2 separate regions of the Homo sapiens genome follow, and region 1 is linked to region 2. Evidence: fine-mapped expression QTL. A gene starts in region 2. The other region holds a variant in brackets. All regions are shown on one strand. Distances are between the middles of the regions.

The links.
Region 1: its variant is fine-mapped to the expression of CCK in fibroblasts (GTEx, PIP 0.99).

The regions. Positions count from the first base shown.
Region 1 is chr3:42,294,628-42,309,696 of GRCh38, reverse strand. No RefSeq gene overlaps it. Among named protein-coding and RNA genes, the nearest start is that of CCK, 36 kb to the right of the region's middle. The variant G/A (reference allele first, on the strand shown) is at 7,988.
Region 2 is chr3:42,259,526-42,274,594 of GRCh38, reverse strand. It overlaps CCK (cholecystokinin), which reads left to right and starts at 8,410. Exons shown (of 5, transcript NM_000729.6): 1 at 8,410-8,911; 2 at 9,158-9,326; 3 at 9,688-9,898; 4 at 10,963-11,178. The coding sequence starts at 10,965.

The DNA.
Region 1 (15,069 bases), 35 kb before region 2:
CCTGTTGATTAAAGAGCCCGTGGGGCCTGAATAACTACTAGTGACACACAGGGAGTATGCCACGGGCCTTGGGCTCTGACATGTGTTGGCTTTGGGGTGATCCAGCACATTCCCAGCTATAATGGCTACAGGGAAAGACTCCATCTGTTTGAGAAAAGCAGAGGGAAAAGTAAAGGGGACTCTGTGTTCCACTTTAAGTACCAGCTCAACCACAGTGGGATAGAGCTCTTAGAGGTCCCAAGTTCAGGCCTAGGCTCTTAGACAGCATTTCTGGACCTGCTCTGGGCTAGAGAGGAGCCCACTGCCCTGAAGGGTGAGCCCCAGGCCTGGCAGCATTCGCCACAAGCTGACAGAAGAAACTTTGGGCTTTAAGTAAGCATTAGCGGTGGCCTGGCAGAACACCCCCATGGACCAGTGGTGGTGGTGGCCACAGGGAGAGATTTCTCTGCCTGTGGAAATGGGAGGGAAGAGCAGGAAGGACTTTGTATGGTGGTTTGAGTGCCAGCTTAGCCATGGAGAATAGAACATCAGATAAATTGCTAAGGTTTTTCACTCCAATTCCTGGCTCCCAGACAGCACCTCTGGATATGCCTGGGACCTGGTGAAACTCACCACCCTGAGGGAAGAGCCTTGGGCAAGGCCCAGTGTTGTGCTGGCTTCAGATCTGACCCAGAGCAGTCACTGTGGTGATGGCCACAGATATGCTTGCATCATCACACCCCCAGTTACAGGTAGCTCAGCACACAGAGAGAGACTCTGTTTGAGAAAAAGTAAGGGGAAAAAAACAAGAGATTCTTGCTTGATAATCTAGAGAAGACTTCTGGGTCTTATCCAAGACCACAAAGCTGGTACCTCTGAGTCTGCAAAAACCACGGTGTTATTGGGCTTGAATCCCAAGTCCCTTTGAATACATAGAAAGCCTTCCCAAGAAAGACAGGTACAAACAAGCCTAGGCTGTGAAGACTACAAATACCTAACTCTTCAATGCCCAGACACTGAAGAATATCTGCAAGTATCAACATCATCCAAGAAAACATGATCTCACCAAATGAATTCAATAAGCTATCAGGGACCAAGCCTGGAGAAACAGAGGTATATGACCTTTCAGACAAAGAAATCAAAATAGCTTTTTTGAGGAAACTCAAATATAATGCAGAGAAGGAATTTAGAATTCTATCAGATAAATTTAACAGAGATTACAATAATTAAAAAGAATCAAGCAGAAATTCTAGATTTGAAAATGCAACTGACATGCTGAAGAATGCATGAGATTCTCTTAATAGCAGAATTGATCAAGCAGAAAAAAGAATTAGTGAGCTTGAAGACAGACTTTTTGAAAATATACAGTCAGAGGAGACAAAAGAAAAAGGATTAAAGAAACAATGAAGCATGACTACAAGATCTAGAAAATAGCCAGTAGCCTCAAATGGGCAACTCTAAGAGTTATTGGCCTTGAGGAGGAGGTAGCAAAAGAGATAGGGGTAGAAAGTTTACTAAAAGGGGTAATAACAGAGAATTTCTCGCACCTAGAGAAATATATCAACATTCAAGTACAAGAAGGTTATAGAATACTAGGCAGATTTAACCCAAAGAAGACTACTTCGAGGCGTTTTATAATCAAACTCCCAAAGGTCAAAGATAAAGAATCCTGAAAGCACCAAGAGAAAAGAAACATGTAACATACAATGGAGCTCCAAAATGACTGGCCGCAGACTTTTCAGTGAAACCTTATAGGCCAGGAGAGAGTGGCATGACACGTTTAAAGTGCTGAAGGAAAAAACTTTTACCCTAGAGTAATATATCTGGTGAAAATATCCTTTAAGCACGAAGGAAGAAACAAAGACATTCCCAGACAAACAAAAGCTGAGGGATTTCAACACCAGACCTGTCCCACAAGAAACGCTAAAGGGATTTCTTCAACCTGAAAGAAAAGCATTGGCCGGGCGTGGTGGCTAACACCTGTAATCCCAGCACTTTGGAAGGCCAAGGCAGGGAGATCACTTGAGGTTAGGAGTTTGAGACCAGCCTGGCCAACATGGTGAAACCCTGTCTCTACTAAAAACACAAAAAATTAGCCAGGCGTGGTGGTGCATGCCTGTAGTCCCATATACTCAGGAGGCTGAGGCAAGAGAATCACTTGAATCCAGGAGGAGGAGGTTCCAGTGAGCTGAGATCACACCACTGCACTCCAGCCTGGGCAACAGACTGAGACTCAGTCTCGAACAAACAAAAAAATCCTTTATATTATCTAATATTCATTTTATATTTATATGTTCCCAATTGTTCTCCAAATGACTTTTTAGCTAATTGGTTTGAACAAACACCCAATCAAGGTCCACAGATTGCCTTTGTTGTTGTGTCTTTCAAATCTCTTTTCATCTAGAATATCCTCCCTTTCCCCCCTTTTTATTGTTTCATGACACTGACCAATTGAAGAGACCTGACCAGACAGATGTCTTATAGAACAACTCATCTTCTGAGACTAAAAGTTATTTCTAAATTAAGGTTAAAATGTTGGGAAAAAATATGTCATAGCACTATGTATTTCAAACTGCATTATATTAGGAGACACATAAAGTCTATGTATTATAATAATCGTTGTCCCATTATTGATGATGTTCCAATTATAAATTGACTTTAAAATCAGCTTTAAAAGCAATATTAAATACATTAAAAAGATAAAATATATATTCCTTAATTCAAAAATCAAATTCATGGAATCATACTTTAAGGAAATAAGGAACCCATGGGGGGAATCTATTCATGAATATTTTAAACACTTATCTATTTTATGAAAAAGCTAGAAAAAATATGAATATTTGACAGTAGCAACTCTGGTTCATTCATTCCTTTATTCAATAAACATTCATTTAGCTCTTGCTATGTGTTAACAGTGGGTTAGCTACTAAGTATTTAAAGACAAATATGGCATGGCCTCTGCCTTGGGGATCAGTTCGAGAAGCAAGCAAGCACACAGACACTGACACCACAAAGTGAGGAAAACCACAAAGGGGAGAATTTTCCACCTTTAATGACTTCAGGGTACTTCCCCCAGTACTCCACCGCCTCCCCAGATGAGGAGGCACTCAAGAATTGATTACCAATTCATTTGACATTAATTTCTAATGTAATTGCAATGTGGCTTTATAAAAGATAAACAAAATGATATTTCAGATAGCAAACAGTGACCACCTGTAGCCCTGAAACATTGAAGAGAGCCAAGATATCAGAGTTGATATTTGTTCAACAATAGAATTGTATCCATCAATTTTTTTATTGCTTGAGAGAGAATATATGGGGGAAGTTTGAGCATGATTTATTTGTACATGTAAGTAATATCAGTTTTAATGATACCTTCTTACAGTTTTAATGATGCTACTTATTGAGCCTAAAATTATGTTTCAAAGGCATTGGTAATAAATTACGTTTATTAATGGCAATGGTGGGTCATGTTTGCCCCATCTCTAGTCCCAGGACAGCAGCAGAGTGTGCACACTGCAGCTGGCATGCGGAACAGACCCGTGTCCCACATCACTGCTGATCTTGACACAAAGGCTTTACCACTCACAGTCTCAAAATGGACCTTGTCAAGTTAAGTTCAGGCACTTTTAAATGTTCACTCAAGTTGCAGTGAGCTGAGATCGTGCCATAGCACTCCAATCTGGGCGACAGAGCAAGACCGTCTCATAAATAAATTAAATAAATAAATATTCACTCAATTAGCTACTTTTTTTTTTTTAGACCGAGTCTCGCTCTGTCACCCAGACTGGAGTGCAGTACAGTGGCTCAATGTTGGCTCACTGCAACCTCCGCCTACCAGGTTCAAACAATTCTCCCAGCTCAGCCTCCCGAGTAGCTGGGATCACAGGCGTGCACCACCATGCTCAGATAATATTTGTATTTTTAGTAGAGACAGGATTTCACCATGTTGGCCAGGCTGGTCTCAAACTCCTGACCTCAGGTGATCCACCCACCTCAGCCTCCCAAAGTGCTGGAATTCAGGCGTTAGCCACCACGCCCGGCCAGCTACTCTTAAAGTTTGTTTATGTAAAACACTTTAACCTTTATGACAGTCAGAACTGGATGAGATTTTAGAATATCTTTAGTCCATTCCTCTGCCTTTAGACTGGACCATGGCTACTTGGAGTCATAAAGATAAGAATATATCTTTTTAAAATAAAATGGAATGCCACAAGGAGCAACTTCACCATTTCTGCTACCAATTTGCTTCATTGTTTAGAGACATTGGCATTTAAAGGCAATCCTCCTACATTCCTTGTGCTTGAGTTTAAATTTCATTTCTTTGATTTTAACCTTGACAAAGGTGTAGTGCCCAGGATCAGTCCCTGTCTACCTCTCACCCTCCTTTCAAGTTATTCCTCTCATCTTCCACTCCATCCCCCTAATATGCTTGGCTCTTCCTCGCTAGCTCCTATTGCAAAGTTTCCATATCACACACCACCACCCCAGCTAGCATATGGCTTGTTTCTCAAGGGACAGTGAGAGGAAAACTAGGAATTTAGAGCGGGGCAGAGAGTGCCTCTGCCCTCAACTGGACAAATTCAGGGGAGCTTTCCCCACCTGTTCAGAGGAGGCAGCCCGGTCCTGCCTAGACACTGTTTTAAACTTACTCTGACATTGTTATTAGCAATTCTAAAAAATGGAAACTAATCAAAAGTAATGGAAAAGAGATCAGGGGTTGCATGGGGAGGGGGTTAAAGGAAGGAAGGGGCACCAGAAAACTTTGAGGGGAGATGGAAATATTTGTTACCTTGATTGTGATGATGGCTTCAAGGGTGTAGACAGATGTACATTCTAAGTATGTGTAGTTTATTGTACTTTAATTATATGTTAATGAAGGTATAATTGTTTTAAAAATCCTTATTAGCTCTTAATTCAACTTATTTCAGACCTGGCCTAATTTCAGAAGGCTTGTATTACTAATTTGTAAAGCCAATAGTTTGTCTCCCTAGTCCTCAGAGCTTGAAAGCACAGTAGTAACATCTTTGCACAAGCCCTACTTTGTAAATCAGCCTTAGTTCCTTGTAATCATGTAGCCACTTCACTGTCAATGGGGCTCAGAGAAATCAAGTAGATTGCAGTTTGTTCCTGCCAGAGAGCACCACGCTTGCAGTTCAGCTGTGTGTGGGCCACCCTGTGACATTGGAGAGGCAGACCTGGCTCAGTACAAGGGACATTTCATAGGTGAATATTCTGAAGAGGACATTCAACATCATGCATATGGATGATCATCCCCCCACCCTCACCAAGACATTCTCAAGGCCACAGCTAAGTCTTACGCATTCTAAATGTTTGCTGAGATGAAATGGGGTTCACGAACTGTTTCCTTCCCAGCAGCATCCCAGCTGTGTGTTAAGGGGAAGAGATCTAAAACTCTCTCTCCATCAGCATGGGGAAGCAGTGGAGAGAGACTGTGAAAACCTTGAGCATTTTACAACTCCAGAGCCTTCCAGACTGAAGGCTCAAATTGCATTTAGCTCCAGCACAAGGCAGAAGATGGCAGGAAAAGACGATAATCAACACAATGTATGCACATTTCCTTTTCCAAGGAGGAGTGTGAATCTTTGATTCTAGTCACAAATATCCTTCCCACCCCAAGAAAAAAAGATTTCTTCCACCATTCACCTGGATAAATACAGTACAGAATTTATAGAAGTCAAGGTTCAAATGTAATTGAATGTAACATGAACGTGGCTCAAATGAGCTTGCACAGAATTAGAATTTATTGACTACTATAGGCAGGAAATCCAGTAATTGGTCTCCATTCAGGCATAGATGGATTCAGGTGTTAAAGGATGCTGTCCAACTTCTGTCCCTTTCCTTTTCTCTCACCCCTCTCAATCCTCTGTGCTGGCTGCATTATAAAGCAGACTCACTCATCTTACTTTATCCAAGATAAAGACAGAGGCAGCTGCCTCATTGTTAATATAACAAATCTTGTGGAAGAACTTTGATTGTTTCTGCTTGGATTAAGTGCTCATTTGTGGACCAATCACTGCAACCAAGAGAATGAGGTGCTCTGATTGGCAACATCAGTGGTCACTGTTCATCCTGTGACTAGGACTGAGAGGGTAGGGAGGAGGAGAATTATAGGCCCATCCAAACCATATGGACTGGTTTTCCCAAAGTGAAGAAGAGTTATATTGGCAGAACAAGGACAGAAGAGCATGCTGGGAAGCTGTCACAGTCCACTAAAAAGAGGAACAGGAAGAGCTGGCATGCCCGATCAGAAAGACTGTTGTCTGAAGAAAAAACCCCTCTTCCACTTCCTGCCACCTGGAGGGTCACAGAGCTTTTCTCTCTTGTGAACTCCCATAGTTCTCATTCATCTGGAGGAAAAAGATTCAGCTTTGGTGGAAAGGCGAATGCCCTGCCTCTGCCTCTGCTATCTTCCTTCTGCAGCAGGAGGAAAGGCCATGGGCCTGCCCTCCCCATTCACAGGAAAATCACGATGGCAGCTTTTAATTTCTTCAGAGTGGAGAGAAACCTTGACCTTCACAGAACAGAAAACCACTCTGAGGGTGAGGGAAGTACTGATGAATAAAATATCACCATTCTTGCCTTGACCTGTGAGACTTAGATATATGATAACAGATACTCATGACAGAATGGTGGAACCTATTACATAATCACTTTCTGTGATAAGTTTGAGGTTTGGTCTCTCTAAAAGTCCACAACTTGAGATTCTTTATCCTTCTTCCTTTCTTAGTACTATTCTATCCAAGAGAAAGAGGAGACATGCTAGACCTGCTTCTGATTCACAGGGACACTAGCTAAAATTCCCTGTGACTCAAAAACAGGTCTAGCTTATGCTGGGCCTTTCTTTTACCATTGAACCTCACACCTCCCTGGTCCCCAGTCTGCCATTTTACTGTGTGGCCTTTGGCAAGTATTCTGATCTCGCCAAATCTGTTCTCTCAAGGTCAGTGGAAGTAATGAGACCTACTTTTGCAGGAAGACACACCAGAAAAAGTTTCCATAATTCCTTTCTTTCCTGAAAACCTGAAACCGTTGTTGAAACCTCATTTTTAACAGACTGCATTAGTATTATGAAACATACACTATATATCAATGAAAGTTAATATCCACAACTCCTAAAATGTTAATTAATACACATTGTACATCTCTGTGCTATGCTAAGAATTGTGTTTTTATCAAATGCTTTTCTCAAGTCCATGCACAATTGCATCCCATTTCTCCTGACTCTGAGGCACAGCCAGCCTACCTCCTTGTTAGTATCACTGTGTTAGTCCATTCTCCCATTGCTATAAACACCTGAGACTGGGTACTTTATAAAGAAAAGAGGTTTAATTGGCTCATGGTTCTGCAGGCTGTACAGGAAGCATAGGGGCTTCCGGGGAAGCCTCAGGAAACTTTCAATCATGGCGGAAGGTGAAGGAAAAACAGGCATGTCTTACATGGCTGGAGCAGGAGGAAGAGAGAGAGCAAGTAGGTGTTACATAGTTTTAAACAACCAGATCTCATGAGAACTCTATCACAAGAACAGCACTGGGAGATGATGCTAAACCGTTAGAGACCTCCCCTAATCCAGTCACCTCCCATCAGGCCCCACCTCCAACCCTGGGAATTACAATTTGGCATGAGATTTGAGTGGGAACACAGATCCAAAACTTACCAACTACTGAGGCAATAATGGGAGAAGAAAGGGAAAAAGAACAGTGTGTGCATGTGTGTGTCCCCACCTACTCACACGCACACCACAATAATCTGGTGATGTAGACACCATTCTTTGTCATGAGTAAAGTATTTTGCCACATCCCCCATCTGGGTTCCACTCCCATCAGGACCCTTCATGGGAGCCCAGTGACTCCATAGTGTCAGGGCGTATTCAACCAGTTCTAACCTCATACCAAAAGGAGGAGACATACCTTCTGCAAAATTATTAAACTCAAAGAAAAGCAGAAGAGAAGGAAACCCTACACCCTGATGTCATTCCCTCTGCCTT[G/A]TTTTAGATCCTTACTGCCAAGTAGAGAAGCACATAGTTTAGGCTTGGTTGGAACAGGATGTGAGAACACAGATTTAAAGACCACTTCAGGAATTCATTTTTGAGTGACTCATGGGAAACTGGGTGTTAAGTGACTTTTTGGGGGCTGGGATGTGGCTGATACGGTCAGTCATCAGAGAGCAACACTTGGTGTCCCTGTGCCTTTATGGAAAAAGGGAGAAGCCAGCTGCATGCCTTTTGTAGGCTGGACAGAAAGATGGTGTTACTTGTTCCTCATCCTTTGTTGTCCTTGCCAAGGCTCTCTTGTTGGCCATGTATACATGTATACACCCTTGCTCCACTGGTTTTGGGTTTGATCTGTGACTTGGAATGTGAGTAGGGGTACCATATGCCCATTCAACCAAAGGCATTAAATGTACTTGCATGGTTTGGTTTGCTTTCTTCGGCTTCTGCCATCTGTCATCAGAACAGCATTCCCCAGGAAGCTACCTCCCATCCAGCCTGGGTCCCAAAATAAGTGACATGTAGAAAATTAAACTCAACCCACAGCCTGAAGCAGTGTCTGGAGGTCCTTCCCATCACGTGTCTTCCCATCCTTCAACCACCTCCTGCTCTCTCCTGGCCTGGGCCATGTGGACACAGTCGTAGCTAGACTCTCCTCAAGAGGATGAATTCCAGTCTTAACCGACCCCTTCATGACCACCCCACTGATGTTTCTCACCTCCCTTGAGTCATCCTACTGTGACCTTTCTCCCTTATTCTCAGAAGATGACATACCATATGCTGTACTAGAAAGATGAAAGCTTTTCTGTCTGGTTTAGGTTTTACCAAAAGCAGACTCTCAAACAAGAATTTGAGTGAGGAGGTTTATTTGTGAGGTGATCCCAGGAGACAGATGTAAGGAAAAAGGGAAAGTAAGACAGGTAAAGGAGACAAGCCAACAAATGGTGCTATGGTTTGAATGTGTCCCCTCCAAAATTCAGGTGTTGCCAGTGACATGATAGTATTAAGAGGCAGTGCCTTTAAGAGGTGATTAGGCCATGAAGGCCCCTCCCTCATGAATGGGATTAGGGGTCTTTATAAAGGAGCTTGATGATGGGAGTTCTTCCTGCTTCCCCTCTTCTGCCTTGTGCCATCTAAGGACACAGCAAGAAGGCCCTAATCAGATGCTGGTGTCTTGATCTTGGACTGTAAGAAATAAATTTCTGGGTTTTTGTAAATAAATAACTCAGTCCCAGGTATTCTGTTATAGCAGCACAAAATGGACTAAGACAGGTGGCATTAGTGAACTTCTGGGCAACTGGGGCTCAATCCATTGCATACCCTCTGAGGAACTATGTAAAATGTGCCTCCAATTTTCTCCCCAAAAGAGGACCAGGGACACGATCTCGTCAACTATTGACTGAGGATTGGGAGTGGTAACTCCCTTGTACTTCTGGGATGTGCCTGCACCTGGCTAAGTAATCTCCTGCCTCTGATGTGAAAGCCTGAGGTTTTGTGTGGAAGCAGGTCACAGCAGGGAACTGTCCTCCACTGCAGTGCTGAAACTAGACAGGCCAAGGGGATCTTGTTTCAAATGCTCTATTCGTGTGCTATCCATGTCCCTGTGTCTCTGGCCTAGTGTCAAAAACAGATCTAGAGTGAGATGTAAGAGGCAGAGACAGAGACAGACAAACTGCTGGTGGTATTCAATCCTGGTTCCAGGCATTCCTCTTTGTCACAGAACACTCCTAACTTTCCGTTGGTTTGGAGGAGGATCTGCCAGGTTCCAGCAAGAAACAGAGGGTAGTCTCAAAGGGTTTCAGTGAAGAAAGTTAATTATCCTCTTGTCCCACTATTATTCCTATAGATCAGACATAGCAATGACGAAAGTTTGAAGAGAAGTTATGTGAGAATAACTTGAAGTGAAGAAAGTCCTAGAAAGATTGCCAGATTTAATTTTACTGGTGGATTCCAAGTTTGGTTATTTGAGTTCAGAAGGTCGCTGAGTTTGAGAAGTCCTCTGTTCCCCTCCAGTCCTTTTGGCCCCAGAACCATAATAATTTCTTCCCCCTGGTTGCCAAACAATGGTATGTAAGATGGTTCTACTGCCCTGGGTTTAGGCAGAGAGAGATGTCTTGTCATCCTTTTCTTGGATTTAAATGATTGAGTTCCCAGACCACTAGTAAATCTTTGGACAGTTAGCCTGATGTGGGCTGGGGAAAGGATGAGTGGCTTGATATTTTCCTAGAGACCCTCATCAGGATCAGGGGCCTAGCTAGGGGCACAATTCTAAATTGGCATTTAGTTTTCCTCAGTACCTTAAGGACATTAATCTGTTGTTTCCTGAAATTTATTAATATTTTTACTGTTGAGAAACTGATTGTCAAGCTCATTATAGTTATTTTGCATGATTTTTATTTTCTTTCTCTGAAATTTTTTTTAATTCCTTCATCCTTAATGTTCTGCAGTTTTCATCAAATGTGTCTACATATGGATTTATTTTTATCCTGCATAATTTTTAGTACATACTATGAATTCAGGGACTTATGTCTTTCTTTAATTCTAGAAAATTCTAAGCATTTTCTTAGAATATTAATTTGCTGCATTTTTCTAACTCACTTCTTGGACTCCTTTTACTTATTTATTTATTTTTCAGAGACAGGGTCTTGCTCTGTCACTCAGGATGGAGTTCAGTGGTGTGATAACACACACTGCAGTCTCGAACTCCTGGGCTCAAGGAATCCCCTTGCCTCAGCTTCCTGAGTAAGTACGTAGGTGAATCATCATGCCTAGCTATTTTTTCCTCCTTTTTGTGGAGACAAAGTCTTGCTATGTTTCCCAGGCCGGTCTCGAACTCCTGGCATCAAGAAATCATCCCACTTTTGCCTCCCAAAATACCAGAATTACAAGCAGGAGCCTCTGTGCCTGGCCTGGAACTCCTTTTAGATGTTTGCTAAAGACTGTCAAACTACCCTGTTTTTGTGTGTATGTTTTATCCTTCCCTCTTTCTGTGCTATATTCTGGATTCACCCTTTAGGACTAATTTTCCAAGTGCTTAGTATAAAATTAGAGTTTGTCTTGTCCATAGGACTTTTATTTCAATGACCTTATTTTTCAATTTCTAAGATTTCTATTTGGTTCTTAGCATATTTACCTGGTCTCACTTCTGTTTGCTTTTGTTCAGTAATTTCTCATTCCACAGCTATTTATTCATCTCTTGAGAATTCTCAGCATATGTAGTGTTCAGATTGCTCTGTAGCTGTTGACTCTCGAACAACACAGGTTTGAACTGCTCAGGTCCACTTATTTTCTTCTGCCTCCACCACTCCTGATGCAGCAAGACCAACCCCTCCTTTTACTCCTCCTTCTCAGCCTATTCAAAGTGAAGATGACAACGATGATGACATTTATGATGATCCAATTCCACTTAATGAATAGTAAATATATTTTCTCTTCTTCATAATTTTTAATAGCATTTTTCTTTCTCCAGCTTATTTTATTGTAAGAATATAGTATATAATACATATGACATACGAAATATGTGTTTATCAACTGTTGATGTTATTGATAAGGATTCCAGTCAACATTGGCTATTAGCAGGTAGGTTTTTGGAGAACCAGAAGTTATATGTGGATTTTTGACTGCATGGCTGGGGGGGGTGGTCAGTGTACCTAACCCCATGATGTTCAAGGGTCAACTGTATTTTCATTTTATCTGATATGAATTCATCTCTTGATTGTTGATTTTATTGCTGTTTTTCTTAGAATTTGATTTTCCTCGGTGTTTTCAAATTTATTTTTTAGCCTGTCTCGAAGTGATGTCCCTCTTCTCTCTCTTTTCTCCCTCTCTCACCCTATCCCTCAAGTACATTACTTCCTACTAACTGGTTTGTTGCTGCCTCTGCTCATCCTCCCAGGACATCCAGCTGCCTTGTGATGATATTAGAGACTCTGCATATCCATTTACCCAGGCTTGGTCCAGGTCCTGGCTGTGAAGTTCTGTCTGCTTCCTCTGCCCACCCTGGGAAGGTAGATTAAGTAAGACATAATTCCTGGAATTGATGGGGAATGATTTTCCTTCCTCACCTTGTTTCTCAGGCAAGGAAACCCCAGACCAGCTTGTGGCTTGCATGGGTGACCCTGGATCTGGAGCCTTGCCTTGTATGGAGCAATTTTAGCTTGCACTTCCCTGAGTAATGGGAAGTGCTGCTGTTGCCTATCTCTGCACCTGGAGGCCTGATGCCTATACCTTTAGCCCCAGCTCACCACCATATGTATCTATTATGTTTCCAGTCCATGTATCTATAGATTTTGGTTGTAATGGTAGCTGTATCTTCCTAATTTACACGTTTTACATTTTACCTATTACCTTTTGGAGGTGATTAGAAAGGCGGCACTGACTAGATGAACGTTAAGACAAAGTTTTAAGAAAATGGCACCTCTATACCTACCTGCATGGTTTATTTCACTTATTCGCATTGGAAAATCCCTGCTTCAACTGAGAAATACTGTAGCACAGTTGTTTTTTCATTACATTAATATTTCTGCCTGGCTCAACAGTCAGTAACTTTATTAAGATGTGATAAAGCAAGCTAAAATTATTTTATTAACCCCCAAAGCCAGAATAGAGTCTCAGATAGCATCTTCAAATCATGAACAGCCTAAACAATGTGACCAACTTTAATTTCAAGGAGCATCCTGGCCACCCAACGTTATAAGGAAGTCAGTAAAAATTGAAACATTTACCCAGAAACACACACACACACACACACACACACACACACACACACATTTTCCTGACAGCTGGGAAAAAGAGAAGCATTTGGACCTACATTTTAAATAAGTCCCCCTCAAAATTGAAGCTGATATTAAATGTTTTTAATTTAAAAGCAATTTAAGGAATAAGGCCATTTTTTGATTGTGGAGTTTTTCTTCTTTTCTCTCTCTTACTTATTTCCCCCACCCCCATCAACACATGCCTAATCACTATCTCACATTTTTCCCACTTGGAGGAAAATGAGAGGTTGAACAAATTCAAAAACCCTGGTAAATGTCCCATATGCATGTGGCCATTGCTACCTAAGTTACCTTAGTTATCTAAGTCAACTGTTTGTCAAAGTCTGGTCTAAGCCCAAACGTGAGACATGGGGGTCCTTCTGAAGGCCACAAAAAAGAGAGGGTGTTGCACTGCAGTTCTGAGATGAACCCTAGAAAAGTTGAAATAATTTAAAAAATAATACTTAGTCTGCGTCAGGCACTGAGAGAGGCACTTTACATTTATCTCATTTAATTCTCACAATAGCTCCAAAAGGAAGACACTATTGTTCTTGTCCTCATTTTACTGATGACAAAATGAAGGCTCTGAAAGGATAAGTAGTTTTCACAGCTAAGGAGAAGAATCAGCATCTGATCCCAGGCAGTCTGGATCCAGAGTCTGTGCTCTTAACCACCACAGGGCACTACTCTTGTAACCTGAGTAACCCAGAGCTATTTTTTTCGGTGTTGTTGTGTTGTTGTGTTTCTCGGGGATTTTTTTTGTTTGTTCATTTGGTTGTTTTTTGTTTTTTTGTTTGTTTGTTTGCTTTTTTTTTTTTTTTGAGACAGGGTCTCACTATGTCATCCAGGTTCAAATGCAGTGGCTCAATCTTGGCTTACTGCAGCCTCGAGCTCCAGGGCTCAGGCAATCCTCCCACCTCAGTCTCCCAAGTAGCTGGGACTACAGGTGCGTGCCACCATGTCCAGCTAATTTTTACATTTTTTTTCTACATATGGGGTCTCCCTGTGTTGCCCCAGATGCTCAGAAACTCCTGAGCTCAAGTAGTCTGCCCACCTCAGCCTCCCGAAGTGCCAGAATTACAAATGCGAACCACCACACCCAGCCTTTTTTTAAAAAAAAAAAATAGAGACAATGTCTCATTATGTTGCCCAGGCTGGTCTCAAACTCCTGGCCTCAAATGGTCCTCTTGCTTTAGCCTCCCAAAGCGGTAGGCCTCCCAAAGTTCTGGGATTGTAGGCATGAGCCATTGTGCCTGGCCATTATTTTTAGTTTTATTCTTTCAATTTCTGGTCTACTGATCTATTCACTCATTGTGTCCATCTTTTCTTAAAATTTTAGGCATATTTTTAATAACTTAAAATTTTTATCTTCTTACCCTTCTATTCTCTCACTTTGTAATCCTTTTTTTTTAAATCCTCAAACATACTTGTAATAACAACTTTAAAATCGTTTGCTAATTTCAACACATAGGTTATTTCAGAGTATCTATTTAGTGCTTTTTCTATTGATTATGGTTCCTGTTTTCCTGCTTCACATGTCTGATAATTTTTGATTATATGATGGACATTGTAAATGATACCTTGTACAAAGTCTGAACTATGTTGTCTTCCCTTAAAAAACAACAAAAAAAAAATGTTAAGTTTTTTCTGACTGGTGGTTAAATGACTGGTAGATTCTCTTGATGCAGTCAGAATTTGGTAGGTTTTGTTAGGGCCAATGTATTTCGAGTTTTGTCCATAGTCCTAGAAACATGGCCTTCAATCCAGAATGTGGTCCTTACTCCTAAATTATGGCTTTTCCGACATCTCAACTGAATGCTTGAGGTGCTCAGCAAAGTCTCTGAACACTGACTGTGTGGGAACTCAAACATTTCCCAGGACTTCACTACTTCTGTGATCTTGACTTAGTTCTCTGCATTCCAGGACAGCCTTGCTCTGCACATGGACAGCCCAGAATGCTCTGCCTTGTGCACTCTCTCCTTTTAGCACCCTTCCCTACTAAATCCAAACACCCCAAATGTCATTCTCTGCCTTCTCCACCCAGAAAGACCCCTGTGTTCCACTGGGGCTCAACTTTCCTGCTGCAGTCTGGGAAGGGCCTCCAGGACCGGGACAAATGTGAATTTCTCTTCTTTCAAGAATCAGAGACTTGCATTGTCTGCTGCATTGTGCTGAAAACATTTGCCTCATAGGTTTTGTCTAGTTGTAGAATTGTTTACAGGAGGGACCAAAGAACAAAGGAAGTATGAGAGTTTTGTGGGGACAGGGGAGCCTGTTATGTGTACAATTGCTAAATGTATTTTATAGGTGATGACAGCATTTGCT
Region 2 (15,069 bases):
GTGTGAAAATGGACTAATACAAATATAAAATACATTCTATAATAAAAGGGCTGAGAAAAAAAAAGATAAAGATGCTCTCTTTGACAGTTGGGAACAACTGCCAAAGAGAGCAACTTGGCAATATTCACCAACATGCTAAATGTACATATGCTTTAACTCAGCAGTTCCACTTCCAGAAACTCATCCCATAGGTAAACTTGTGCATGTACAGAATGATGTATATTCAAGAAGCATTGGTTATAATTGGAAAATATTGGAAGCTACTTAAATTTCTATGAATAGGGCCCTGGCTAGATGAATTCAGGTACACCCATACAATGGAATAGTTTACAGATATTGAGGTAGAATTATGCTAACAGTATAAACTGACCTAACTCAAATACATATTTTAAGTGAAAAAAGTAAAATAGAGAACATTTTGTATTTTATGCTTCCATTTGGAGACTGTGTGTGTGTGTGTGTGTGTGTGTGTGTGTGTATTTCTTTGATACTTATTGATGTGCTTGTATGTGCATTGACTTTATCTGGAAGAATTTACTAAACGCTAAAGCACTCCTTGCCTCTGCATGGTGGAGGAAGAAGAGTGAGGGGAAAAATTGATTTTCACTATATACCCCTTTGCACCTTTTAAATTTTGAATTATATGCACTTAATACTTATTCAAACCATTTTATTTTAAATTTTAAAACTATGAGCCTTTTCTGATAAGGTTGTCCTGGAACAGCTGTGTCCCAAAGCCTTAGTTCAACGGAGGGCCCATGGCCACCATGCAGGCACCAGGCAGGTTGGTAAGGTAGGAGATGTCTCTGCTGGGGGCTGGGACCATTCCAGAGGACACAGACTTGCCCTCTGCTGTGAGGGGACCTCAGCTTCAGAGAGAAGCTGGATCAGCAGGACCACAAAGACTCCCAGACTGCCCTTCAAGTACTTCAAGTCTCACTGTTTGCTAACACTTCCCAAGGAGAGCCATGGAGGCCTCTTCTAAACCTTCCTCAAAAGAAAGTGAACTAAGCAACAGGCCTGAGGACACTGGTGGCTGGTTTCCCTGGCAACTACGGTTCCTCTTTTGGCTTTTCAATATTAGTTTGAAAAGCAAAAGGAAAGCTTCTTCTGCAGAGAGCTCAATCAGCTGGGATCTGACCTCTCATTCCTGTCATCCATTCACGAGGTGATCTCCCATTTCTGGTGGCTTTTCTAACCCTGGCTAAATGAAATGGTGCTAAGAACAATTCCTGTGGCTAATTGGGAGTCCACAATCCAACCAAGGGTCAGCAAATGGCTTTTAATTCATAGCTATCCATCTTGTAAGTCCAGTCAACTAAACTGATGAAACTAACAGCTGAATTTGGTGAACATTTATTGGTCACTTAGCATGTGTCCAGCACAATTCTTGCATTTGAGTGAATAAATCACAATTCCTGCTTTCCTGCATGTCAGATGGCAGATGAGACGTTCATACAGATGAAGAGTTCATTCAACAAATATTCATTGAGCAGCTATGTCCCAAGCCCTATTGTAGGAAATTAAGATACAATATGGTAAATGCTAACATTGAGTACATGCAAAGTGTTAGGAGAGTGTAGTGGCTCCGTGGCTGCCCCACTCATATTCCCTCGGGCCTCACTATCATGGTGCTTGCAGGCCCAGCTTCTGGTCACCAGCATCTGCACCTCTTCTCTGAAGGCTTCCATTGGGGGCTGGATCCTCAGTGGGCCAGAAGTGCTAGGGAATGAATGCCCCAGGAGCTTCCCTTAGCCAGTGAGTGAGTGGAGTTGATGTATAGACATGCACGCACCTTCGCACCCTAGGGTGAGATGGCTCTGAGGCCCACGTTCTGCTCTGGCCCCTAGAGTGCCCCAGGAGGTTAACCACCACCCATAGCTTCACTTGCCCATGATCTCTGTGCTTTTTCTCTTGCTCTTCTCACCCACAGCCCTCTTCACTCCCTTGGGTGGTGTTGGAATTTGTGACCCTTGAACAAGAGGGTCCTCAAGGTCCACCCCAGATTTAGGATTCCTTTATTCCACCAACCTTATAGAAATGCCAGTGAACAAATAAAATGTTAATTTACAGGGATGTTTTACTCTGTTATGGGCGGAATGTTTGTGTCTCCCCAAATTCATATGTTGAAACTGTTAACCAAAAAGTGAGTGACTGTGGCAAGTGTCTAAATCCCAGTACAGGTTTATTGAGCCAAAGTGTGAGGATGCACCTGGGAAAAACACAAGCCACAGAAGCATCTGCAACCTGTCCTTTCCAGGAAACTCAGTATTTAAAGGGAAGGAGCAAGCAGGAGAAAAGAAGGGAAGGGTGTAGGCAGTGAGGCAAACAGCTATCTACTTCTGAGGCTCTGATTGATGCTCAAATAATCTACACTCTACATAAGGTAAACATCTGAAAAGAGGGAGTATGGGAAAAAGTTGATGATGCAGCCATCTCAGGGCAGGCAGAAAAGTGATTGATCTTATCTTGTCCTTGTGTATTAGTCCACTTTCACCCTACTGATAAAGACATACCCAAGACTGGGTAATTTATACAGGAAAAAGGGTTTAATGCACTTACACATGGCTGGGGAGGCCTCACAATCATGGCAGAAGGCAAGGAGGAGCAAGTCACATCTTACATGGATGGCAGCAAGCAAAGGGAGAGCTTGTGCAGGGAAAATCAACCTTATAAAACCATCAGATCTCATGAGACTTATTCTCAATCACAAGAACAGCATGAGAAAGACCTGCCCCCATAATTCAATTACCCCCCACTGGGTCCCTCCAACAACATGTGGGAATTCAAGATGAGATGTGGATGGGGACACAGCCAAGCCATTTCATTTGTACCTGGGAAGATAAGCTTATAAACGACATTGTCAGGATAAAATTGAAGAGAGCTCAGTTTTAGGAGTTAAACTTGGCTTACAGACCTAAAGTTACAATTGGTGTGTGCTTGTTTTACAGGGGGATATGTGTCTTGAATGATTTAGAGACCTGCAAGGAATTCCCTTGTGAGCAATTTGTGAGGGTGACCATCCAGAGAGGTGGAAGGCCGTTCATCATTGTGGGAACCTGGCTTATGTATAAAGCTATGAAAACACAGGGTTGTGTCTGTTGTTTAAGCCACCCAGTCTGTGGTATTTTGTTATAGCATCCTGAGGTGACAGTGACACAATCTCTGTTAATGTACCTTTTATGTTCCCTCACCTGTAGCTATTCCCACCTCAGCCGTCTGCTTCTCTGTAGATGTTTGTTTCAGGAAAAAGAAAGGCAGTGTTGCATGGCTCAGTCTCTAGGCTTAACTCTCCCCTTGACATAATGAGTTTGGGGATCTTGAGATTTCCGAGATTTGATTTTCTCGTACAAAGCCCTAACCCCCAATGTGATGGTATTAGGAGGTGGGGACTTTGGAAGGTGATGGTGATTAGGTTTAGATGAAGTCAGATGGGGGAGGACCCTCATGATAGGATTAATGTCTTTATAAGAAGAGACACCGGAGAGCTAGCACTCTTGCTCTCTCTCTCCCCACCCCCCAACCTCCCTCTCTCTGCCACGTGTGGATACAGCAAGAAGTAGTCCATCAGTAAGCCAGGAAAAGAGCCTTCACCAGGACCCCGCCATGCTGGCACCCTAATCTCAAATGTCCCAGTCTTCAGAACTGTGAAAAATAAATGTCCATTGTTTAAGCCACCAGTCCATGGTACTTGTTATAGCACCCTGAGTTGACAGTAACACAGCCACTATTGATTTCCCCTTCATGTTCCCTCTCATGTAGCTATTCCCACCTCAGCCATCTGCTTATCTCTTCTCTGCCTGAGGGCTTTCTCTGGCTCTGCAGGAGCAGGTAAGCCTATTTGGAAGTGAGAGGGAGCTAACACCTGCTGGAACAGCCCTCAACTAATGGGAAATGGGAGTTGGTGCTCCGGCTCTCCTTCTGGCCTCAAGTAGGCTGGCTATGAGCCATGTTCCAAGAGGTATCTCAGAGAGTCCCCAGGGGATTGGGTCCACAGCAGTCATCCACTGTACTCAATACTTCACTGTCTTCTCTCTTCCCTTCTCCCTTACTCCTGCTCCCTTGGAATCACTCTCAAATAAATTACCTGTAACCAGGTGCTGTCCCAGGCTCTGCTTTTGTAGGAACCCAAACTATGACAAGATATTCTAAAGAAATTCATCGTTAGGAAAAGGAAACACTTCACCATGACCATAGTTACTTCCCTTTTTTCAGTCTAATCATTCCAGATATTGGCAGATGATATTGGCTATGTGGACTTTGAAAAATTCCAGGACAAATAATAATATTTTAATACATGTTCAGGAAAAAAAAAGACCCAAAAAAGAAGCCTTCTAACCATCACGTTTCTGATCACAGCAAATAGCCTCCTGCCTTCTGGTAAGTGGGGCTTGCTTGTAACAAGCTTAAATTCTATGAATAATAAATCAGGAGGCTCTAGCATGTCCCTGGAAATTCCACTAAGTTTTCTACACATACAAAATTGACATATGTCTTTGAGCTAGGTCTCATGACTAAAAAAATCGTGTATTGAAAATATATCTGTTTCAGGAACTAATCTTCGGGGATACCTCCCCAACTCTGAGCAAGATCTTACTTAAATTCATTTCACCGCAATCAGATGGGAATTTCTAGACTCCAAACCAGTGAACAGTCACAGGTTTCCTCTCTCCACTATTTCCTTTCCAACGCGGCATCTGGATATGGCACCCTCCACTCTCAGTCCTCCAGATAAAGGCAGGGACCAGCTGGTGCGTCTCATTCCATGATGGGGAAGAGTGGGTGGTGGTGGGAAGGACACAGAGGGCACTGCCTTTTCCATTCCTTTTCTGAGACAAGAGAATGAGCTTGGCAGAAAAGTTAGTTACCGTCTCACATTTGATGAAATACAAAACAATCTCCAAACAGTGCGAACTCCCATACAACTTCCTTTTTCTCTATTTGGACTGAAAAGCAAAACCATTTCTCCATAATGTACATACATAGCAAGGTCTACACAGCAGACAGCCTAACAGGGCATCCCCCAGCAGTGGTTTGCATACGTTCATGCGGGTGCCCAGTCCTCCACAGACCCTCCCCCTACTCTACTTTTCTTGAAAACATGTGTGCACCTTCCATGCCTGCTGTGTATTTTTTAAATTGTCTGTCTCCTCCACTAGAATGGAAGCATCACAAGCACAGGGATTTTGTCTGTCTTGCTCACCACTGAATCCCAACAGTGCCCGAAAGACAGTTGGTGTCTTTGATAGGGTTATACTAAAATTAGACAGACTTGAGTACATGTCGTTTATTTGGGAGAGGAGGAAGAAATGAGAAGAGTAAGACAAAGAAGGAGGAAAAAACAACTAAAGAGATGTTATCAGCTGGGCTTGGTGGCTCACACTTGTAATCCCAACACTTTGGGAGACTGAGAAGGGAGGATTACTTGAGCCTAGGAATTTGAGACAAGCCTAGGCAACATGGTGAGACCCTGTCTCTACAAAAAATTAAAGTATTAGCAGAGTATGGTGGTGTGCACCTGTGTTCCCAGCTACTCAGGAGGCTGAAGTGGGAAGATTGTTTAAGCCAGGAAGCCGGGTTTGCACCACTGCACTCCAGCCTGGGTGACGGAGTAAGACCCTGTCTAAAGAGAGAGAGGGAGAGAGAGAGAGAAAAAAAAAAGAGAGAGAGAGCTGTTATCAAGTTCACCGATACAGGCAAAGGACCGTTGAGAAGTCTTTAGAAGCTTCCAGAAGGGTTCATACAGAGAGACTGGGGTTCCCATTCCCCACTGGCTGAAGATTGTCTTTCGGGGAGATAACACCCAAACTTACAGGCTGAACCTCTGCAAGGGCTGAACTTTGAAGGAGATAAGCCAAGAGGGGTGCTTTGAAAGCTTGAAGTGGGAATGCTGTCTGCTGAAAACTGCCCAGCCTGGCTAGGCTGCAGCTGAAGCCAGAGGGAGAACGTGGAACTGTGGTGAGGAGCACCAAAGGCATCTGCCTCAGGAGACATCAAGCCCATTTTTTTAAGTGAACAAATGGATTATCTTTAATGCGGATATGCATCTGGATTACAGGAATAGTGTCGGCTCCAGGCCTAACTTGCTTAGGAACCATAGTCAGAATAATTAGTACCTGTTGACCCTGTAAGAAGGAAAAATCATGACTATGGCCAAGGAGTTCAGATCCCTTATGTCTTTCTATTTTCCTAGCAGCTCTTCTATCACACATTTCCTGCTCAGAATTTCCACTCCTGAGAGACAAGCGGCTACAACTGCTTTATTTTACAATAAAGAGGCAAGCAGCTCTCTTGATCGTAAATGAGAAAGGCCCATGCACAAGCCCTTCTTCAGCTTCTGATGGTCCCTGTCACCTCTGGCTCTGCACTGGCATTTCCACGCTGGCCTCCTTGGCCCACTTGTCTGGTTCTGTACCAGCTCTTTTTCCTCCACCCACTCCTTCACGCTGTCACTCCTCAGCGGTCTGTCTAGAGGCACCCTGCCACCCATTGCTAGCTGCCTTCCTCAACTCTCCCTATAACTCCCAGGCTGGCAGCCACCACCCACATGCCAGACTCTGGGTCCACCCCTCCAGTGTCTCTCTGCTCAGGACAAAGGCTCCCAAACTCCTCCTAGACTGTCAATGCACAAACGATCAACCAATCCCATACTGGACTCATTACCCGCTCCCCACTGGCCCACTACCACCACGGCCACACTCCAAGCCTGCTTTTCCTTCTGAATTCCCTGTCTTGGATAATACTCTACCACCCACCCTTGTCTCCCAGCCTGGAAACTCAAGGTCAGTCTCAGTCACCAAGTCCGGTTCCCTCTACCAGTTTCCTGAGCAGCAACAGGTTGTTCCCTGGGAGGCTGGAATTTTTCTTCTTTTCTCTACTTTTGTTTTCTGAATGTTCTCTGATGAACACTTATGACTTGCATAATGTTTATTATGTTTCCTAATAATTAATGGGTTTCATAATGGCTTATTATTCTAAAACAAATCTACCTTGATTGTTCCTGCTTGCCCATCCCCGAGGGCCTCCTATCCAGCCCTCCCCTTCCAGTCCCTCTGCCTTTTGGGCATCTTCCATATTACCACCTAGCTCCCCTCACCAAAACATTTCTCCAAGATTACCTCCTACCATCTCCACTCCATAGTCCCCAAATATCAGAATTGTTGAGAAGTGTTTGTCCACTTGTTTGCTTCAGCTCCCCTATTGTATTGTCAGCTCTTGTTCATACTGAATCCCTGGGGCCTGGCACAAAGTAAGTGTTGAATAAACATGAATTAAATGGATCAAGGCCAGGAGTTGAGTAACTGGTATAAGGTAGGGAATTTCTATAGAAATGATCTCAAAGTGTGCTTGGCGGACTAGCATTTTCAGTATGGCCTGGGAACTTGTTAGAAATGTAGATTCTTGGTGGGGCGTGGTGGCTCACGCCTGTAGTCCCAGCATTTTGGGAGGCCAAGGTGGGTAGATCACCTGAGGTCAGAAGTTCGAGACCAACCTAGCCAACATGGTGAACCCTTGTCTCTACTAAAAATATAAAAATTAGCCAGGCATGGCTGCACATGCCTGTAATCCCAGCCGCTGGGGAGGCTGAGGCAGGAGAATCGTTTGAACCTGGGAGGCAGAGGTTGCAGTGAGCCGAGATCATGCCACTGTACTCCAGCCTGGGCGACAGAGTGAGACTCTGTCTCAAAGAAGGAAAGGCAAGGAAAGGAAGGAAGGAAGGAAGGAAGGAAGGAAGGAAGGAAGGAAGGAAGGAAGGAAATGAAGAAAGAAAGAAAGAAATAAAGAAGAAAGAAAGAAAGAGAGAGAGAAAGAGGGAAAGAGGGAGAAGGAGAGACGGAGGGAGGGAGGGGGGAAGGAAGGAAGGAAGGAGGGAGGGAAGGAAGGAAGGAAGGAAGGAAGGAAGGAAGGAAGGAAGGGAGAGAGGGAAAGAGGGAAGGGGAGAGAGGGAGGGAAGGAGGGAGGAAGGGAGGGAGGGAGGGAGGAAGGAAGGGAGGGAGGGAGGGAAGGAGGGAAGGAGGAAGAAAGGAAGGAAGGAAGGAAGGAAGGAAGGAAGGAAGGAAGGAAGGAATTCGGATTCTTGGGCCCTTCCTCAGACCTACTGAATTAGAAGCTCTGGGGGTATTTCGATAACAAGTTTATGTTTCCAGACATGTCTTGCCACAATCACAAATAAGACTCTTTTTCGCAACTGAACTACACAAACCTTAGCAGGCTCGTGGCGAAACCACTGGAAAGCATTTAATCAGCTTCAGCTCTTTCAAACATGTTGCCCATAGGTTGCAGAAACGCAGCTGCCTCTCAGGATTAGAAAGTGGAGCAGCAACCGGAGGCGTCTCTGGGCCGCCCCCCCAACCCCCCCACCCCGCCTCGCCCACTCCACCCTCACACTGGCGTTGCCACAGTCCCTCCATTCCAGAGGGAATTCCAGAGCGGAATACGGATTCCGATTTTAAAATAAGCGCTTCTAAATCTTTCTCCTTGCATCTAAGACGGGTGGGGGAAAGAAAGGGAGAGGAGTTGAGGTCCCAAGGTTCAAGGCCTGGTGATCTCCAGGTCCCAGGCTGGGCGGCCTCGGTGCACGGAGAGGGCGAGGGGCGTGTTGTGGAGCCTTGGCAAGGCGCTGCTCTTCCTCGCGCCTCGGTTTGCGGTCTGTGAAATGGGGTTGGCAGTGCCTTTGCAGGGACGCGGCGAACTCAAGCACCAGCAAGCGGACTCGAACTCAAAGGGTTTCAGGGTGTAGACGACCAGAGCGCACTGAGGGGCTCCAGGTCGGCCCGCTCCGGAGCCGGGAGAGTAACCGCGTGCAGGGAAAGGCGCACGGCAGCCTCGGTGCCTCCCTTCCCTCCACCGGACGGGTGACTGACTAGGGGTGAGGTCCTCACCTCCAGGCTGCGCAGCTGAGTTCTGGAAGGTACTGTCCTGGGGGTGTGAGTGTGTGGGCCCTCAGGAAAGGTGCGAGGGGCGGATGCCGTGGTCTACCCGAGCTTGCGGGGGTGCGGTGGTCAAGTTCCCCAGGACCCTCGCTGGCGCCGCTTGTCGACAACGGGGAACAGTGGGCGCCGCGGGTGGTGGTAACTTGGCCCGGGAAGAAAACACATCCCTTTCCCAAACCGGATTCCTCTGAGCAAAACCAGATGGTGTCATCCGCATTTTACAGCTGCGTCAAGAGAGGCCCAGGACACCAAGAGCCAGCTGTGGCCAGAGCCCTTTCACTGACCCAGAACACTGGCCCTCGGAAACCTGGAGAACTGCGAGGGCTTTTAATGCGGCTGAGAAGAAAGTGAAGACCCCGACTCCTCCTCTCTCCTTCGAAAGAGCCGACACAGGTATGAAGACCAGCGCCTCGGACGCTCCGGGGTAGGGGGCCGACGCCCCCTCCCTTTCAGAATCACGCCTTGCTGATGCTCAGTCCTGCCCAGTGTCCACCCCCCACCCCCGCCCCCAGTTTCCTTTCTAGCCCCTCCGGTCCCCAAAGCGAACTAAGCTAGCGGCAGCTTCTCCATCCCGGAGGAGACTCCAAACTCCTAGGTTTCCCACCTTGGAGAGTACTGCTCTGGAATGCGCAGGGGAGCGGCACCTGGAAAGGGTTGGGCGGAAGCTTCTCGGACCCAGAGGGGGCGGACACCCGGCACCGCGCGTGGGAGGGATTAACTCCACCCCACTAGACCACCTCCCCCTCTCTCCCAGGAGCCACTTCAACCGGTTGTCGCCCCAGTGGCCGCCCTCTGAGCACGTGTTACTGCCAGTCTGCGTCAGCGTTGGGTAAATACATGACTGGCCGACGCCGCCGGGTGGGGCTATTTAAGAGACAGCCGCCCGCTGGTCCTCCCTGAACTTGGCTCAGCTGCCGGGCTGCTCCGGTTGGAAACGCCAAGCCAGCTGCGTCCTAATCCAAAAGGTAGGTCCCTCGGTTCGTCAGCGGGGGATCCAAGTGTCGTGTGTCTTTGAAGGATGCTGTCTTCAGCTTTGTGCCCATTTCCATTATGCTTTTCTATTTTCTGTGTCTTCCCTCCGAGAGCTCGAAAGACATTTCTTGAAGTCAGAAATAACGGCTCTGGGTCTAAAAGTGAGGTCTGGGTGGGTAGAGCTGCTTTAGAGCCTTTCATACGCCAGCATCATTAAGGGATGAACTACCCATTCGCTAAGATTCGCATGCAGATTGAGTTTGCTAGCTGTTACACAGCGGTGCGGGGGACTTTGCAATCTTTTCTAATAAAATATTAGAGGGTTTTAAGATTTAAATTCATTTTCTAAATACTGCAGAAAATTTCGAGGCTTTACGGATAGAAACTTGAGGGTGTTTTATCCACTAGCGATCTAAAATGCACGGGGCTTTCGAAGCCTGAGCGCTGGGCACATATTTCTGATTTTAAAACCTGCCTATGTTCTGCGTAGTGGCTTATTGCCATTTCCCACGTACACTTTGAGAAAAACTTTATAAATACGGCTTTATTTATTGCTCCTACATTTTAAACTGTGCTTCTCTTTTTCATCATTTACTGTATTTCCATATTGAAAGCTTGTTAGCTATCTGGAAAAGTGCTTTCCCCAGGGTTCTCATTTCTCCCACGGAGTCTTCCCTTTAGGATATTTTTTTCACACTATTTTTAATCTCGTGGGGTTTTATTTTTCTTCTTTCGGTTAGAAGAGAGGCACTCTGCAAACACTTCCTCAAACTTTAGGAAAGCAAAAACATTCCTTCTGCTCAACACGGCAGAAAACAGGGTCTCTGCCCCTTGGCGCTGGGTGAGGAGTTCCCAAAGACCAGCCAGGTGCGCCCGGGGGCGCGCGCCATGGCACTCGGCTGGGGTCAGCGCTTGGCGAGCCCTCGTGCTTGCGGCGGCCTGGCGGGTCTGGAGCACCTGTGTTTGTCCTAAGCCCGCTTCTGGGTGCCCGGCCCGCCGCAGGAGCTCTGTTGCCCAGCCTTTCAGTTAACGCGCCCTCCTCCTTTGCTCGCTACAGCCATGAACAGCGGCGTGTGCCTGTGCGTGCTGATGGCGGTACTGGCGGCTGGCGCCCTGACGCAGCCGGTGCCTCCCGCAGATCCCGCGGGCTCCGGGCTGCAGCGGGCAGAGGAGGCGCCCCGTAGGCAGCTGAGGGTATCGCAGAGAACGGATGGCGAGTCCCGAGCGCACCTGGGCGCCCTGCTGGCAAGATACATCCAGCAGGCCCGGAAAGGTAAGAATGCTGCCTCCCCATCCCTCACTTCTGCCCTTGTTCCCAGGCTCCCGATGCTGACCCTCTTCTCTAGCGCTAGCCTGATGGGGATGACCTCTCTCGGTAGGAAACAAGCAACATGATTTCTGGCGGTCCTTTGTAGCAATCTGAGAAGGGGTATGGAGGACTTAATTTATAAGTAAGGGGAACCTTCTTGAAAAGCTTTCTTTGAACTAATTTTTAGCAGTGTTGCTGATTAAGTTCAACACCATTTTACCAAGCCATTAAAAGATAATTATTGAAGCCTAGGAAAGGGTTCCTAGATACAGTGAATACCCTCTACTGAAAACGCAAAGGACCTTGGAGCCACCCAGATACCAACCCTTGGAAATCCTCTAGCAGGAAGGGGTCAATGCTGAGAATGCCTGAGATCTGGCTACAACAGTTTAAAAAAGCAGTGACAATGTGTCCATTTCCACCAAAGTATGTAACAGAAGGAAAGAATCAGCAGCAGTTTTGTGTTCTCCTTGCAATGACTTACAAATTATTACCCAACAAGAGAGGTATTTGTTTTTACTTTACTGTTGCAGAGATGGTCACAGTTGTAGCAAGAGCTGAGCAAGTCAGTTTTCTCAGCATCAAAGTCTTTCTCCAGGAATAAGGTGATTCAGCAGCTCACTAGCCGAGTGGCATGCAGGCAATTCTGACCTGAGGCTAGCTTTCCCCTAAGCTCCTTCCAATTCTTTGTGTGATTCAGAGGGAGGCCCATTCATCTCTTGTGACCCATAGGAATCATGCTTTGGATTGGGGCAGCTTTTTTCTGCCAACTTTATCCCCAGTGACACTAATGATGAACACCGGCTGTGGAGCAGTGTGCTGAACAGTACAAACACAGCTGGACATTAAAAGAATTCAGCAGGCCAGGAGCAGTGGCTCACACCTGTAATCCCAGCACTTTGGGGGGCTGAGGCAGGTGGATCACATGAGGTCAGGAGTTCGAGACCAGCCTGACCAACATGGTGAAACCCCATCTCTACTAAAAATACAAAATTAGCTGGGCATGGTGGCACATGCTTGTAATCCCAGCTACACGGGAGGCTGAAGCAGGAGAGTAGCTTGAACTCGGGAGGTGGAGGTTGCAGTGAGCCGAGATTGTGCCATTGCACTCTGGCCTGAGCAACAAGAGTGAAACTGTCTAAAAAAAAAAAAAAAAAAAAAAAGAACTTAGCAAACACTGCTGGAAGGGATGTGGTAGGTGTGTTGCCTTTTCCATGAAGCTCTCTTACCCAACTGGTGTTCCAGGGCCTGGATTTGAACCTTAACCCCTGGCTTGACCAGAGAGGGATAAGATGAAGAGTTTTGGCTCTGCAGAGTTCTTCTGTGGGTTCACATGAAGGGAAGACTGGAACTCTGACCCAGAGGCTTCAGAAGGAAAGAACAAATCAGTGATTTGTTGTATTTCTTCCTGTCTTTGGGAAATTGCCCCACCCACCACCTTGTGTTTTGCTTTCCTGCTAATTAAATTGAAAAAGATAGAAATACTTCTCAGATGGAGAGAGAAAGTCTGAAAGCTTTTGAGTTCCTGCTGATTCTCTGCCTGAAAATAATTTAGTATCTGTCCCCAGATACAGGCTGAATTTCAGCCAGACCAGTCTGAAATATCCTAGGCTTTTCATTTAACTGTGGACCTGGACTCCCCTCCTCCAATTTAGGAAAGACCCTGGTTTTTCTTCTATGTAGGCTGAGGATATCTGCAAAAAGGCCTGAAATGTGCCGAATTGAGTCTTGGTTCCAAAATTGCTCTAGGGAAAAAAAAGAAAAAAAAAAAAGCTCATTACCAAATTATTTCCTAGAACCAATACTAGACAATGGCTCTTATAGCATAAATCTTAGCTGGAAAGTTCTTTCTAGTCCCTCTTCTCAGCCCCCCTCTCCCTTTGCCTTCAGCCAATTGTGCCAAACAAACCCAGGAGGGAATAGCAATCACTTGGAAATTTAGATGCCAACACCTAGGATCAACTCTAGCTAAAAAACAAGCAAACTCTTCTATGTGACAAACATGAACTAGGACTAAATACTTACACATATAGATACTGCACAGTTTCTATATGTGCAGTATATAGAATATTTTACATATTTTGAATATTTTACATATTTTGAGATCATATCAGATTTTTGCTCCACTATAGTATATATTATTCTTAAAAGTTCTAAACAAGACAATGCATTCTTTGAGCAGTACTTAAGAGTTTATCATTAGGAAATATCTGCAGCACTTTCAATGGCCCAAGAAGAAACAATTCTATTGGAGGGCAGTGGGTAAAGATATCTAGAGGCATTTAGTGTGCGCCTCCCCCATGCCCAGCAAAGCTTCAATGCTACATCTATATTGTCTTTCTCAGTACAACAGCCCTGCACAGTGAATATTATTATACCCATTTTGCCAGTGTGGAAGCTGGGGCTCTAAAAGCCTGAGTAACCTACATGCAGTTGCATATCTACGCAACAGCAGGGCTGAGACTCTATCTAGTCCTGCTCCCCCCAGGAGGGCCTGGAAGCCATTCAGCTTCCTAGCTGTACTGCCTATTCCACATTTTAAAGTTTAAAAGAGCTAAACCCTTCAGTTTTAGCAAGAGCTAAGAAAGTCACTGTTTTCTCAGCACCAAAGTCTTTCTCCAGGAATAAGGTGATTCAGCAGCCCACTAGCTGAGTGACATGCAGACAGTCCCGAGGCTAGCTTTCCAATAAGCCCCTTCCAATTCTTTGTGTGATTCAGAGGGAGGCCCGTCCATCTCTTGTGGCCCATAGGAATCAGGCTTTGATCAATTCCATACATCAGATGTAAGCCCCTACTCTATGTCAGCACTGGGAAAGTGAGTGAGGACCCTGGTAAATACACATGACATGAGGACAGAACTGTACGTGGAACGGGGAAGTCAGGGTGTGTGATAAATGCAGCTTCCATGACTGAACATGGTGCCCCCACCGTTAACTGAGGCTGCTTGCTCGTATTGAAGCTGTCACCTTGCTTCCATTAGATGGAAATTTGGGTTGTGCCCAGGCCTTAGAGTGGGCACTCATCATCACAGCAGGCAGAAGGATGGGTCATGTTTCCATGTGACTGTGTACAGGTAACTGGGTCTATAGGTTTTCCTGAATTCAAGGGTAATATTTCACCTGAATGATGAACAATTAAATAGCAGGGGCTATTTTTCTTCTACGTAGGCTGAGGATATCTGCAAAAAGACCTGAAATGTGCTGAATTGACTGTTGGTTCCAAAACTGGGAAGGGTTGGGGTTGGGGAGAGAAAGGGTGGGGACGTTGTTCTGTGTTGTTTCTGTTTTTAATTAAACTTGCTTAATTTCATTACCCAGGGTAACTGCCTTTGCATTTTCATTTATCAACACATAAGCCATAGTCTGACTCTACTCAGCCTATGGGTAGGAGCTGGCAAGGGCAGCCTCATGCAGAAGGGATATAGACCAGCATGACAGGAGGTGGGGATACAGTGGCCCCCAACACAGTGGGAGTCATTGAGTGGTCCTCCACTCCTCTACCCTTGATTTGGCCTGGGCTTTGTCCATTGAAGTCCCTGAAGGGCCTTTCTTAAGACTGAGCTTGCACAGGAGAAGGTGTTCTGCTGATTTCATACCCCAGGAGGCTTCTGTCTATGAACTTTGAGCTAGGACTGTCTCATGTCTCCAAATAAACTGCCTCTTCATGTCCCTGCTCACTCAGTGTGAGCTCTACAAAAGGATCACACTGTTCCTGAAGACTTAACTTCCATCCCAATGGGACAATTTCAGGTTCAGTTATTGCATTTTGGTCAAAATTGCTGATTTAAATCACCTTTGTTATCACCTCTCTCCCCCCCTTCTTTGAGTCTTACTGAGGTGCCAAGATTTAATCCG